4 linked regions of the Homo sapiens genome follow. The protein of the gene in region 3 purifies or fractionates together with the protein of the main gene of each other region. This does not show direct contact. Each region holds a gene or a part of one and is shown on either strand. Other genes may lie near its edges.

The links. Proteins that work in one complex are often made in the same cells at the same time.
Region 1: the proteins of NEK1 (region 3) and CPT1A purify together in Homo sapiens (affinity purification with mass spectrometry, with the first as the bait; one large-scale study listed by BioGRID). This does not show direct contact.
Region 2: the proteins of NEK1 (region 3) and EXOG purify together in Homo sapiens (affinity purification with mass spectrometry, with the first as the bait; one large-scale study listed by BioGRID). This does not show direct contact.
Region 4: the proteins of NEK1 (region 3) and CAPZA1 purify together in Homo sapiens (affinity purification with mass spectrometry, with the first as the bait; one large-scale study listed by BioGRID). This does not show direct contact.

What each region holds. Positions count from the first base shown.
Region 1 is NC_000011.10:68,831,917-68,835,416, reverse strand, and holds part of CPT1A (carnitine O-palmitoyltransferase 1, liver isoform), read left to right. Parts: intron 1-3,500. UniProt on the Homo sapiens protein: Catalyzes the transfer of the acyl group of long-chain fatty acid-CoA conjugates onto carnitine, an essential step for the mitochondrial uptake of long-chain fatty acids and their subsequent beta-oxidation in the mitochondrion.
Region 2 is NC_000003.12:38,509,840-38,513,339, forward strand, and holds part of EXOG (nuclease EXOG, mitochondrial isoform 1 precursor), read left to right. Parts: intron 1-3,500. UniProt on the Homo sapiens protein: Endo/exonuclease with nicking activity towards supercoiled DNA, a preference for single-stranded DNA and 5'-3' exonuclease activity.
Region 3 is NC_000004.12:169,403,084-169,406,583, reverse strand, and holds part of NEK1 (serine/threonine-protein kinase Nek1), read left to right. Parts: intron 1-3,500. UniProt on the Homo sapiens protein: Phosphorylates serines and threonines, but also appears to possess tyrosine kinase activity. Involved in DNA damage checkpoint control and for proper DNA damage repair.
Region 4 is NC_000001.11:112,661,332-112,664,831, forward strand, and holds part of CAPZA1 (F-actin-capping protein subunit alpha-1), read left to right. Parts: intron 1-3,500. UniProt on the Homo sapiens protein: F-actin-capping proteins bind in a Ca(2+)-independent manner to the fast growing ends of actin filaments (barbed end) thereby blocking the exchange of subunits at these ends.

The sequences.
Region 1 (3,500 bases), on a different chromosome or scaffold from region 3:
TGTGCAAAGGTGAAGAATATGCATGGGAGATACAGGGGACACCGCTCCTGTTGTCTTAGGGACATTTGTGGGAACAATATACTGGTACGAAGAGGAGGTTTAGGATGTCCTTTGGGCAGGTGCAGGTCTCCTCCTTGCAGTCTGAGCTCCTGCCCGAGTGCCGATGCTGGCTAGAGGCAGGGCAGGCACAGTGGGAAAGAAGTAGCAGCTGTTAAACTTCTGGTGGGCTTCTGAATAGCTAGGTCAGATAACTGGGTCTGTCAATACGTTGGCTATCTTCTTTATAAAATTGTGAATCTTTGTGGCTTTTCCAAATTTTTTTTCTAAGATCATATTTGTCTGTATTTATCTAACCATTACTTATTGACGTGGTGCACTATAAGGTCTAAATTTGAATTGGCTTAATTTTTTTTTTTTTGAGATGGAGTCTCGCCCTATCGCCCGGGCTGGAGTGCAGTGGCGCAATCATGGCTCACTGCAACCTCCGCCTCCCCAGTTCAAGCAATTCTCCTGCCTCAGCCTCCCGAGTAGCTGAGATTACAGGCATGCACCACCATGCCCAGGTAGTTTTTGTTTGTTAGTAGAGACAGGGTTTCATCATGTTGGCCAGGCTGGTCTCAAACTCCTGACCTCAAGTGATCCACCCAGAATTGGCTTAATTTTTACAGTACTTGGTAAGACAGGGTCTCGCTCTGTCATCCAGGCTAGAGTGCAGTGGCGTGATCATAGCTCACTATAACCTCAAACTCCTGGGCTCGAGTGATACTCGCAAGTAGCTGGGACCACAGGCATGCACTACCCACACCTTGGCTAATTTTTGTATTTTTTGTAGAGATGGGGTCTTGCTACATTGCCCAGATTGGTCTCAAATACCTGGGCTCAAGCGAACTTCCTGCCTTCGCCTGCCAAAGTATTGGGATTACAGGCATGAGCCACCATACCCAGTCCAGAATTCCTTTTATTTTATTATTTTTATTTTTTGAGACGAAGTCTCCCTCTGTCACCCAGGCTGGGGTGCAGTGGCATGATCTCGGCTCACTGCAACCTCTGCCTCCCGGGTTCAAGCGATTCTCCTGCCTCAGCCTCCCGAATAGCTGGATTACAAGTGCCCACCACCACACCTGGCTAATTTTTGTATTTTTACTAGAGATGAGGTTTTGCCACGTTGGCCAGGCTGGTCTTGAACTCCTGACCTCAGGTGATCCACACGCCTCAGCCTCCCAAAGTGCTGGGATTATAGGCATGAGCCACCGTGCCCAGCCCAGAATTCCTTTTATAACCTGACGACCCATTATATTGACCCCATAAATGTGAATAGTCCATTATGATAAACTTCAGTACAGGAAATCCACTGTGTGGCCAATTTAAATAATGTGAATATTGAATGATCAGTCATGAATTCAAGACGCAACCTTTCATAATGAAAGCTCCAGGCTGGGTGTAGTGGAGCACACCTGTAGTCCCAGCTTAGGCTGAGGCAAGATGATCTCTTGAGCCAGGAGTTCAAGGTCACGCTCGGCAACAGAACAAGACCCTGTCTTATAAAAAAAAAATAATAATGAAAATCCTTCACCTTTCTTGTACATGAAACCCTCCGAAAAACATAAGGTGAGTCTTACATTCTCACTTCTAAGGTGCTTCCATCAGGTTTGGGAAACAATTTCTTTTTTTTTTTCTTTTTTGAGATGGAGTTTCGCTCTTGTTGCCCAGGCTGGAGTGCGGTGGTGGGACCTTGGCTCACTGCAACCTCCACCAACCAGGTTCAAGCAATTCTCCTGCTACAGGTGCCCACCACCACACCCAGCTAATGTTTTGTATTTTTAGTAGAGATGGGGTTTCACCATGTTGGCCAGGCTGGTTTTGAACTCCTGGCCTCAGGTGATCCGCCCACCTTGGCCTCCCAAAGTGCTGGGATTACAGGCGTGAGCCAACACGCCCAGCCAAGTTTGGGAAACAACTTCTGTTTGTGTGTATACACATTTACTGGAAAAGTACAAGGGCACCATTACAGATGTGCATATCTGCAATTGAATAACGATGTGGCTCATACAGTGCAGAGAGCGCACACCCACACTTGCCTGGAGAAGAGGAGCTGCTGCTTTTCTTCCTTCCCATTATTGCTAATTTTTGCCTGCATCTCAGTTCAGAAGAGCCATGAACTTTACTGCACATGTGTGCTAGTTCTAGGGAACCCCCTGGGCTGCTGCTGTCCTTCCAGAGCCTTCCTGGTACTTCCCTTGAAGTTCTTTGGGCAGCAGTGAGGAGGCCAGGCCAGATTTTTGCCACCTTGGACATCATGCATGTTGTGAAGGTGGTTTCCCCGAGCTGGAGCCAGTCCCGGAGGCTGGCACTAGCTTTCTAGCGAAGCAGAATCTTCCCAGGCATTGGTCACCCGGGCATCCAAGAATGTGTTGTAGATGATGAGATAACTGCCCTGCCCTTCGCCAGAGACACTGCTTCTGACCCTGCCTACAGCGCCTTCTCCAGTTTTTCCAGGGATGAGGCCCATGTCATCCAGCCTCACACTTTCTCTGTTCCTAGAGGCCCTGCCTGGTATTCCTGCTGAGCTAAGCTGTCGCTTCCCATGGGTAACATTTTCTCAGAGGATTTCCAACATAGTTGTTTACCGCTGGAGGAGATGGGCAGCTGTTAGCTAGGTTTGAATAGAAAGCAGAGCCTGCTCCTGTGTGCATGGGCACTGTGCAATGCTAGTGGGAAGACTGCAGCATGTGAATAATTTTACAGTTGGCACTGATGGTGTTTATACTTACTGGAGTTTTATTGCTGGCTGCAATCTCATCATTTTGGTTACAACAGTGACCTAATTTTATATCTGTGTTGTAACTTTAGGAATCCTAAGTAGAACTTTTTGTGTAGTACCTACCACTTTACTTTGGGAGTTAAGAGTATAAGTTTTGGAGTTGGACCTGGGTTTTTGTTTGTTTGTTTGTTTGTTTGTTTGTTTTTGAGACAGAGTCTCGCTCTGTCACCCAGGCTGGAGTGCAGTGGTGCAATCTTGGCTCACTGCAACCTCCACCTGCCAGGTTCAAGAAATTCTCCTGTCTCAGTTTCCCTAGTATCTGGGACTACGGGTGCATGCCACCAAGCCCAGCTAATTTTTTGTATTTTTAGTAGAGACAGGGTTTCACCATATTGGTCAGGCTGGTCTCGAACTCTTGAGCTCAGGTGATCTGTCCGCCTTGGCCTGCCAAAGTGCTGGGATTAGAGGCGTGAGCCACCGCACCTGGCCTGGGCCTGGGTTTGATTTCCAGCCCTGCTATTTGCTGGCTGTGACACTGGGCAAGTTTCTTGACATCTAAGCCCTGGTTTTCTCATTAGTACATGGAGATAGCCCTAGTACCCATTTCCTAGGGTGCTAGTGGGAATTAAATGATCTAATGCTAGTCAAATACATCAATATAAAAATATATATGGGTCACATTGTCTAGCATATGCCAAAGGGTTTGGTAAAAAGAATGTTCTGGGTCGGGCACAGTGGC
Region 2 (3,500 bases), on a different chromosome or scaffold from region 3:
GCATACCATAGAATGTCAGTTAATAAATTTGCGAGAATGAAAGAGTTATACAAATCATTTTGCACACATCACCATAATTGATTCAGGCAAGAGTCATCACTAGCTAAAACTAGTGAGTGAATGTTTTATGAGGAATAGGGTATTTACATAATCTAAAAGTATCTCCTCATACATTATTTATTAATCACAAAGTAAGAAATAACTTTACAGTGAAGAAACATCCCATTACCCAAGTGATCAAGTTTAGTATTGCTAGTAATGGGACTTAGTGAAACGCTGTACTCCTGGTGTGATGCACTGAGCAGGATAAAATATCAGGCATACCCCAATTGAGAGACATTCTGTGAAACAGCTGACTTCTACTTTACAAAAGTGTTAGTGTCATAAAAGACAAAGGCTGAGAAACTATCTGTTCCAGATTAATAGATTAAAGAGTCATGCAAACAAAATGTGTAGTATGATCTTAGATTAGATCCTAGACCAGAAAAAAGTTGCTAAAAAGGATGTTATTGGGAGAATTGGCAACATTCGAGGTCTGTTATCTAATATACAAATTAGATAATTGTGTATTTTCAGTATTAAATTTCCTGATTTTTAAAATTGTTCTGTGATATGTAAGTAAATATCTTTGCTCTTAGGAAGTCATATCCTGAAGTGTTTAGGAGTAAAATGGTGTGCCTGTGACTTTTAAAAAGTTTAGGGAAAAGAGAAGAGAGTGATAAAGCAAATAGAACAAAATGTTAACAATTGGTAAATCTGAGTGAAGGATATAAAGGAAGGAGTTCTTTGTGCTGTTCTTACAAATGCTAAGCTTTTAATTAATTCAGAATTTTAAAATTATATATTAAATATTATATAGATATTTAAATAAAATATTAAAAGATATATTAAAATAGTTTATCAGTGAAATGATACTCAAACATGTTCAAGCTAGCCTTAAAGAGTTTCAAAAGAGACCTATCAGCTCTCCTCACCCTAGTTAGTGTCATAATGATCAGTCATGTGAGGTCAGTCAAGATCAGCTTCCTGAAGAGTATACTTTGAGTAATAGTCTTGTTTCTTGTTTTTATTTTAAAGACTTGCTGGTCTTAGGTATTCTCTTTCAGATTCTGGGCTTCTAAGGTCATATCATTAGTTTTCCATGTCTCTTATTAATTTATAGGACCTATGCATGTTCACACTGGCAAATCTTTAATTCAGTAAGTCATCCGTTCAGCAAATTTTCAAGTACCTGTCATGTGGGAGGAAGGTATACAGAATTGTAAATGGCATGCTCCAAACTTATATTCTTGATTACTTTCTTCCTCTCCTGTATTTCACATCCTGGCAGTCATCTCTCACTCTTAATTACTTTGAACCAACAACTTTTATTAATTCTCTTTTTTTAAAATAACTTTTACTTAGACATACCGAAGCTCTGAACACCTGCAGTATTGCAGAGGCCTCTAATGGGTTTCTCTGCCTCCAATTGCGTTGGCTACCAGTCTATCTGGAGTACAGAAACCATGACAGAGAAAGTATACGTTGTTACTTTCCTAATCCTCGGAACCATAAAAAAAGGAATAACATTAAAAGAACAGAAAAGGAAACTTCATTTATACTGAAATTAGGGAATGTTCACAGTCCTGTATCAAGGAATTTTTCAAATAATATCTGCAAGATAAAGTGAAATTTGGACCAAATTATAAAGGATGTTAATTTGACATGTCTCCTCTTATCAAAGCATGGGACAGGGTACTAGAATTAGTAAGGAAGTTCAGACCTACCGGTAGTAGACCACAGGAGAAATTTCTGGTGTTTAACTTGGAGCTTATCCCTTTATCTTGCAATAGTAGGAAAGGCAGGGTGGTTATAGTTGTTAAAAGCACATATTTCATGTCAGATCTGGCCTTGGATCTTTGCTTTGATACTTACTTGCATGTGGTCCTGGGAAAATGACCTAACTTCTTTAAAGTTCAGTTTTATCTGTGATATTTGGATAGTAGTAGTGTTTACCTCACCGAGTTGCTAGTATCATCGTTAGCTTGGTAGTTAGCACATAGGAAATGTTCAGTAAATATTAGCTACTATTACTCCTTTGGAGGCTAACATAAGAATGAAGACCAGTGTTTTTTGTATTCTTTGGTGCATGTACTCATAAACCTATGATTTCTAAGATTCTTTTTTACTTCTCCTTTCTTATCTACAGAAGCCCAAAAGTCAGGTGCCTCTTTATTAATTTTAAAGCACAATTTTTGTAGTCTTCTAAGTCGATGCTTTTGAGTTCATGAGTTCATGTTATGTTAGGAGTTGTGAAATTAGATACTTACATTAAACACGGTTTAGTCTTGATGCTTTTTTTTCGCTCATGGCATTAAAGTCATAACTGGCAAACTATCTTTCCTTGAAATTAAACTTGAAAAATTTTTAAATTATGCAATTATATGTGCATAATGATAAAAATGCTAAATCTTAAAACATGATTGTGGAAATATATGACATTGTAATGAAATTCAAACAGTACAAAGCAGCATGAAAAGGTAAAGTCTCACTTATACTCCTTATCCCACTGTCCAGTTTTTATTTGTTTTGGCACTTATTTCTATATCTCAGAATAATGAGCACTAAAATATATTTTTAACTTGTGACCTGTCGCTTATTAACAGTTACTTTATCTCTATAAAATTATGAAATTTATTGTTTATTTCTTGCACTGCACTATACTCTGCTAGTCATATATACTTAATTTTAGTTCTTCCGTTGGTAAACTTTGCATCATATACTTTACATAATATACTTGAACCTCTAATCTTGATCTACCATTTATACTTGTCAAGGTTTGTAGCATTTACATTTATGTTTGCTAACGATAATGTAGTCTGAGTTTTGCCTGTAGCAGAGTTTGTAAACTGAGGCCTCTTATGGCAAGTCCAGCCCATAGAGGTATTTTATTTGGCTCACATGGTATATATATATATATTTTTAAGTTTTTCATAGAGATAGGGTCTTGCTCTGTCTGCTAGGCTGGAGTGCAGTGACAAGATCGTAGCTCACTGTAACCTTTATCTTCTGGGCTTTCGAGATCTTCCCACTTCAGCCTACCAAGTAGCTACGACTACAGGCATGCACCACCATGCCCAGCTAATTTTTAAGTTTCTTTTTTGTAGAGGTGGGGGTCTCACTATGTTGCCCCAGCTGGCCTTAAATTCCTGGCCTCAAGTAGTCCTCCCACCTCCACCCCTCAAAGGGCTGGAATTAAAGGCGTGAGCCACCACACCTGACTGTATGTTATTTTTTAATTAGTTTATAATGTTTAATAATTGGGAGATTTCACATAAATCCAGATTTTAGCTTCTCTTAAATCAGATGACTCCGTAACAATTGGCATATACTCCCATAGGCAGCCAGTTTACTAGACAAGAGTATCAACCTTCTCCTTAGATTGAACACACATCTTCAAATCACTGTAGTCTTTACCTGCCCCATTTTACTCACTTACATTTCCTGTCTAGCCCTTGTTG
Region 3 (3,500 bases):
TCATTAGTAAACAGCATTAAAAGATTTTCTGAATTTATATGTAAAAAAGAGGGGATAACTTACCTAGCTCTTTTTTTTAACTCATTAACCTCTGCTTTTATGTCTTCTGTATATTATTTTTATCTATTTTAAGAGACAGGGTCTCACTCTGTCACCTAGCTGGAATACAGGCTGGACACAGTGGCTATAATGTCATTAGTAAACAGCATTAAAAGAGTTTCTGAATTTATATGTAAAAAAGAGGGGATAACTTACCTAGCTCTTTTTTTTAATCATTAACCTCTGCTTTTATGTCTTCTGTATATTATTTTTATCTATTTTAAGAGACAGGGTGTCACTCTATCACCTAGCTGGAGTGTGGGTTGGACACAGTGGCTCACACCTACAATCCCACCACATTGGGAGGCCAAGGCAGGAGGAATGTGAGACCAGCCTGGGCAACATAGTGAGACACCATCTCTACAAAAAAAAATTTATTTTTTCTTTTGAGGTGGACTCTTGCTCTGTCACCCAGGCTGGAGTGCAGTGGCATGATCTTGGCTCACGGCGACCTCTGCCTCCCAAGTTCAAGCGATTCTCCTCCTCAGCCTCCTGAGTAGCTGAGATTACTTGCCACCACGCCTGGCTAATTTTTGTATTTTTGGTAGAGATGGGGTTTCAGCATGTTGGTCAGGCTGGTCTCAAACTCCTGACCTCAAGCGATCTGCCCACCTTGGGCTCCCAAAGTGCTAGGATTACGGGCATGAGCTACCACACCTAGCCAAAAAAAATTTTTTTAATAGCCAGGTTTGTTTCCACATGCCTTGTAGGTAGTCTCAGCTACTCAGGAGGCTGAGGTGGAAAAATCATTTGAGCCCAAGAGTTTGAGGCAGCAGTGAGCCATGATCATGCCACTGCACTCCAGCCTGAGCAACAGAGTGAGACCCTGTCTCAAAAATGAAAAATAAATAAGCTGGAGTGCACTGGCATGATGATAGCTCACTGCAGCCTCCAACTCCTGGACTCAAGCAATCTTTCCACTTCACTCTCCCAAATAGCTAGGATTACAGGTGTGAGCCACTGGGACTGGCCAAGTTAATTTATTATTGCAGAAAAATAAATTGATAAATTTAGTGTAGCCTAAGCATATACTGTGTTTATAAGTCTATAGTAGTGTATAGTAATGTCCTATGATAAGTACCCTATAAAGTTTACCATTTTTTATCTTTTATACAGTGTTTTCACTGTACCTTTTCTATGTTTAGATATATTTAGAATAGACAGATAGCATTGTGTTACAGTTGCTTCCAGTACTGAGTACAGTCATATGCTGTACAGGTTTGTAGCTTAGGAGTAAACAGGCTCTACTTTGTAGCCTAGGTATGTAGTTAGCTATACTGACTAGGTTTGTGTAAGCACATTCTATGATGTTAGCACAACAATGAAATTGGCTATAACAATGCATTTCTCAGAATGCTTCCTGTTGTTAAGCAATTCATGACTGTGCTCTACAGTTTCCCAGGAGAATGACCAGAAAGCTCCACATCTACCTCTTGCCATATATGATTTCAAAGCCATGCCAATGGGGAGTTAGCAGGTCGACCAGTTTTGTTCATGTGTGTGTGTGCACATGTGTCAGTGCACACATGTTTTCTGCATGTAATTGGATTGTTTTCACAAAATTGCTTTCTTTGTGATTCATGGGGAATCCTGAATCTAGGAGGGAAATTTAACAAGCAATACCTCTGAGAGCTGTAAGGAGTGATAACCCCTTAGATTGTGCACATGTACCCTAAAACTTAAAGTAAAATTAAAAAAAAAATTTTTTTCCATAAAAAAACAAAAAGAACCTTCCTTTACCTTGTTCAGTGTTGGTCAGCCCTCTCAACTGTCTTAGACAAATGTTACACACTTTTTGGTGTAATAAAACCAGAGTTTCCTAGAGTAAGGTGAGAAGGTACAGTGTGTTCAAATCACCTGGATAAAAAGTTATAAAATATTAGAATTTTTATAATTTATTTTGTAATTTCTTTGAACTTGTTTCTGCTTTTTACTTTTACCTTTGGAAAGAACTTGTATTTTGATCTGATTGAAAGTATTATATCACTCTCATAATGTTTTCTTCTGTATTGAGTTACGTAGGATCGATGCCGCTGGCACATTTTATTTTCTGGTTTTTGGTTCTTTTTTAAGCCTTGCCCTTGCTTCTTAAGTTTCTGGTGAAACTTCATTTTTAAAAGATTGCCTTTTTCATTTTTCCTAGAGTTCTGTAGATTTTTGCTAATGACCTTACAATCTAGAAGAAAAGTTACCTTTTTACTTTTGTTTCTTCTACTTGACTGTAGTCATTAAACACTGAAATATTGTGTTTTTATTAATCCTATTGGAGAACATAACAACATTCAGGATTTTTATTGTTGACAAACTGCTAACTAAAATTTTTTTCCCAAAAATTTTATGAAATCATTTATTTTTATCTGAATGAACTACAGCTTATTTGTGGCTTGTGTTCTTTTATTTTTTCTTTCTTCCAAGCTGCTAAGTTTGTGTTATGCATGTGTTCTTTTAATGAACAATTGATGACAGAATTTTATTTTAAAACTTAAGTTAGAAGCCTTTAGTATTAATTGAAAAATTCGAAAACCAAGTTGTTTTTAAAGTACGTTATTTCATATTGTTATAGGGATATTTCACTTGATGTTTGTCTTTGGAAAATTATTATTATTTTTTTTTGTCTAAACTTTAGTCAAGATTTTATAAGATAGCCAACTAAAAACTGAATTCAAGACCAAATTTTTTTAAGTACCTTAAAGTTTTTTGGTGCTCATTTAGTAAAAGATCTTAATCTTCTCATACTTTCTTACAGTGGCAAGCTTAGCTGCCTCAATTGAATACCATCTGCAGAGGGTACTAATTCCTCTAGGCCAGCCACTAGATGATTTTATGAACAGGTCAATATTTACTCATTGTAGTAATGGTACATAGCAGGTGTGCATACTTCGTTGATCTTTTTTTAATAATAAAATTTTTTGGGGGAGATAGGGTCTCACTCTGTCACCCTGGCTATAGTACAGTGCTGCAATCATAGTTCACAGCAGCCTTGGACTCCTGGGCTCAAGCAGTCCTCCTGCCTCAGACTCCCTAGTAGCTAGGAATACAGGCTCGTGCCACCACGCCTAGCTAAGTTTTTTGCAATTTTTTTTCTAGAGGGGTCTCGCTATGTTGCCCAGGCTTGTCTCAAACTCCTGGCCTCAAGCAATCCTCTTGTCTCAGCCTCCCAAAGGGCTAGGATTACAGGCATGAGCCACTGTACCCAGCCTAAATTAGTCTTGTAATTATATATTAAGTTAAATGCTACTAGTAGGATGATTCAAGAGATTAGACACTATTTTCTCATTCTAATTAGATGCTTTGCTTTTCTATAGCTCCTACAAGTCAAATTGTAGGCGTTTGTACATATAAGTACAAAATAAAGATATTTCTACATAAAAAGATTATTTACTCTATTAATGGAAATTATA
Region 4 (3,500 bases), on a different chromosome or scaffold from region 3:
GCTTCCTCAAGTAGGACAACTTTCAAGCACATTCTGTTTAGTCTTCCGGAGCCCAATACCCACAGCTGTAACCTGCTCATAAACGTACCTCTAAGGCTTCCTTCCCTTCTGTGTCCCACTTCTTCTGTCCCCTACTGTAGCTTTGTGAGATTCGCTCCTGAATAAACTACTTTTTCTCTAATCTTTGTCTTGGGGTCTCCTTCTGGGAAGGTGCAACCTAAGACAGCATACTGTTCTGTTTCTGTTAACAAAATATCTTAGTAGCCTAGCGCTCTAGATCTCTTGTAACTGTGGCATTAGCATTAACTTCCTAGAACCATGGTATCAGCATTGTAGAAGCTTATTGTAAATTTTGTGTAAATAAATTTTACTTTGTTTCTAGATGGAAACAGCCATTTGTATTTTAGCTCTGCCAGTGCAAACCTATAAAATAAGAGCACACATCACAAAGGGTGATAATTTATGGTAAGATTCAAAATACAGCCCAGTGTACAGACCCACATTTAAACCTTTTTAAGCACAGATTGAGCACACTTTTGGGGAAAGCTTATTTCATTTACATATCTTTTAAATTTTGGAGTGAGAATTATTTGGAAAAGTCGTTAAGATATTTAGCCTTTCAGGCTAGTCTATAGGCAAAAACATCGTTCTGAGAAGGCAACAATTTCTGAGGATTTATGTTGATGACAATCATGTTGAAATTTGTGTTAGTTAATTGAACCATTTTCATATTAGCAGATGAGACCTAGAAAAGGTCTTAGAACACATAAGTTTTGAGCTTAATTTCTTTCTTGAAACGGTGTATCTCAACTCTGTCACCTAGGCTGGAGTGCAGTGGTGCTTTCATAGCTCACTGCAACCTCAAACTCCTCAACTAAATGATCCTCCCACCTCATCCTCCCAAGCACCTAGTGCTACAAGCACATACCACTGTACCTGGCCAACTTTTTTTATTTTTTTGTAGAGTCGGGGTCTCACTATATTGCCCAGGCTGGGTTAATTTCTAAAAATTATAATAACATTAGTGTATTAGGTAATGAAATTAATATTTTTTAGAATTTTTCTTTTTTTTTTTTTTTTTTTTTGAGACAGAGTCTCGCTCTGTTGCCCAGGATGGAGTGCAGTGGCAGGATCTCGGCTCACTGCAAGCTCCACCTCCCGGGTTCATGCCATTCTCCTGCCTCAGCCTCCTGAGTAGCTGGTACCACAGGCGCCCGCCACCATACCTGGCTAATTTTTTGTATTTTTAGTAGAGACAGGGTTTCACTGTGTTAGCCAGGCTGGTCTCGAACTCCTGACCTTGTGATCCGCCTCCCTCAGCTTCCCAAAATGCTGGGATTACAGGCGTGAGCCACTGCGCCTGGCCCTAGAATTTTTCATTGAGATCAAAAACAGTGAGGCTTATTGACCTTACCCTATATTCCTTTCCATGTCCTAATTAAAAAACATAACAGAAGTTCAAACTAATTGTATAGTCTTTATTCTCGAACAAAAAGAATGTGCTCTGCATACCTCCTCTCTTTAGACAAGTTCTGAGAAATACAGAAGTTCTTGTTTCTTCTATGGCCAGATCTGTTGTTGTTTTTTTAAATATCTCCCATCCTGTTTGTAATAATTCCCCCCTGCCCCCTTTTTGTTTTGTTTTGTTTTTTGAGATGGAGTCTTGCTCTGTCGCCAGGCTGGAGTGCAGTGACACGACCTTGGCTCATTGCAACGTCCGCCTCCTGGGTTCAAGCGATTCTCCTGCCTCAGTCTCCCAAGTAGCTGGGCGTACAGGCGCATGCCACCACGCCCAGCTAATTTTTTGTATTTTTAGCAGACACCGGGTTTCACTGTGTTAGCCAGGATGATCTTGATCTCCTGACCTCGTGATGCGCCTACCTTGGCCTCCCAAAGTGCTGGGATTACAGGCGTGAGCCACTGCACCCGGCTCATTCCCCTTTTGAATGTTCTTTTCAGTCCCTGAACCTCTAGTTTTTTTAATGAAAAAACAAACAAAACTGATATTTGATTGTGACCTACTTGTATTTTAAATATTCTTATCTATTGGGATTTTAACCTTTATATGTCATCATCATTTAGCCCAGTCTTTTTTGCCCACATCTTTGCTGTTCTGATTTTACATGTAAGTATTAGTGGTTCTTATTATCACCCTTCTTTTCCATTGGATTCTCATCTTGTCTCCAGTGGATTCCAGTCTCTCTCTGTCACCCAGGCTGGAGTGCAGTGGTGCAATCTCAGTTCACTGCAGCCTCTGCCTCCTGGCTTCAAGTGATTCTCCTGTCTCAGCCTCCCAAGTAGCTGGGATTACAGGCACCTGCCACCATGCCTGCCTAATTTTTTTTGTATTTTTAGTAGAGACAGGGTTTCACCATGTTGGTCAGGCTGGTCTCGAACTCCTGACCTCAAGTGATCTGCCCACCTCGGCCTCCCAAAGTGCTGGGATTAAATGTGTGAGCCACCATGCCTGTTCTCAGTAGATTCTTATATTGTCTTTTCTTCTTTAACCTCTTAGAAAGCCAAAAGGTAAAATTTCAGGGTTTAGAGAGGGTATGGAAAGTCTAGCTTCTCATGCCCATCTGGATAGAGCCAGCTGTTTGTCCTCATTCAAGAAGATACTTGCCGGGCACGGTGGCTCACGCCTGTAATCCCAGCACTTTGGGAAGCCAAAGCAGGGGGATCATGAGGTCAAGAGATCGAGACCAGCCTGGGCAACACAGTGAAACCCCATCTCTGTTAAAAATACAAAAATTAGCTGGCCATGGTGGCACGCACCTGTAGTCCCAGCTACGTGGGAGGCTGAGGCAGGAGAATTGCTTGAACCCAGGAGGCAGAGGTTGCAGTGAGCCGACATCAGCCACTGTGCTCCAGCTTGGGCGACAGAGCGTGACACTGTCTCAAAAAAAAAAAAAAAAAAAGATACTTATTTTTGTCCTTTAAACAAGGATAGGTAGGGGGTTCTTGTTATCCAGGAAAGTCTTTTTGTTGCAAATAGCTTTCTGCCTAGATGAAGCTTGACTGTTAGTTATGCCCTTCTAATGATATCCACAAAGAGTAAGCCCCTGCTGAGACACTATTTCTCCCCAGATCAAGGAATTTCTAACTTTTTGACAAAACATAGCATTGGGAGGTATTACATATGTTGGATAGCTCTGGAATTTGACCTAATTCAAATCCTAGCTCCTCCTCTTACTAGGTGTGTGAACATGGATAAGTTATTGTTTAATAACTGCCTCAAGGCAAACTTCAGTTTCCTCAGCTGTAAAATAGGGTTAGTCGTAGTCCTCATCTCATAAGAGTTTTTGTAAAGATTAAATGTGGTGGCCTAGCGCAGTGGCTCATGACTGTAATCCCAGTACTTTTGGGAGACCGAGGTGGGTGGATCACAAGGTCAGGAGTTCGAGACCAGCCTGGCCAACATGGTGAAACCTCGTCTCTACTAAAAATACAAAAGTTAGCCGGGCGTGGTTGCGGGTGCCTGTAATCCCAGCTACTTGGGA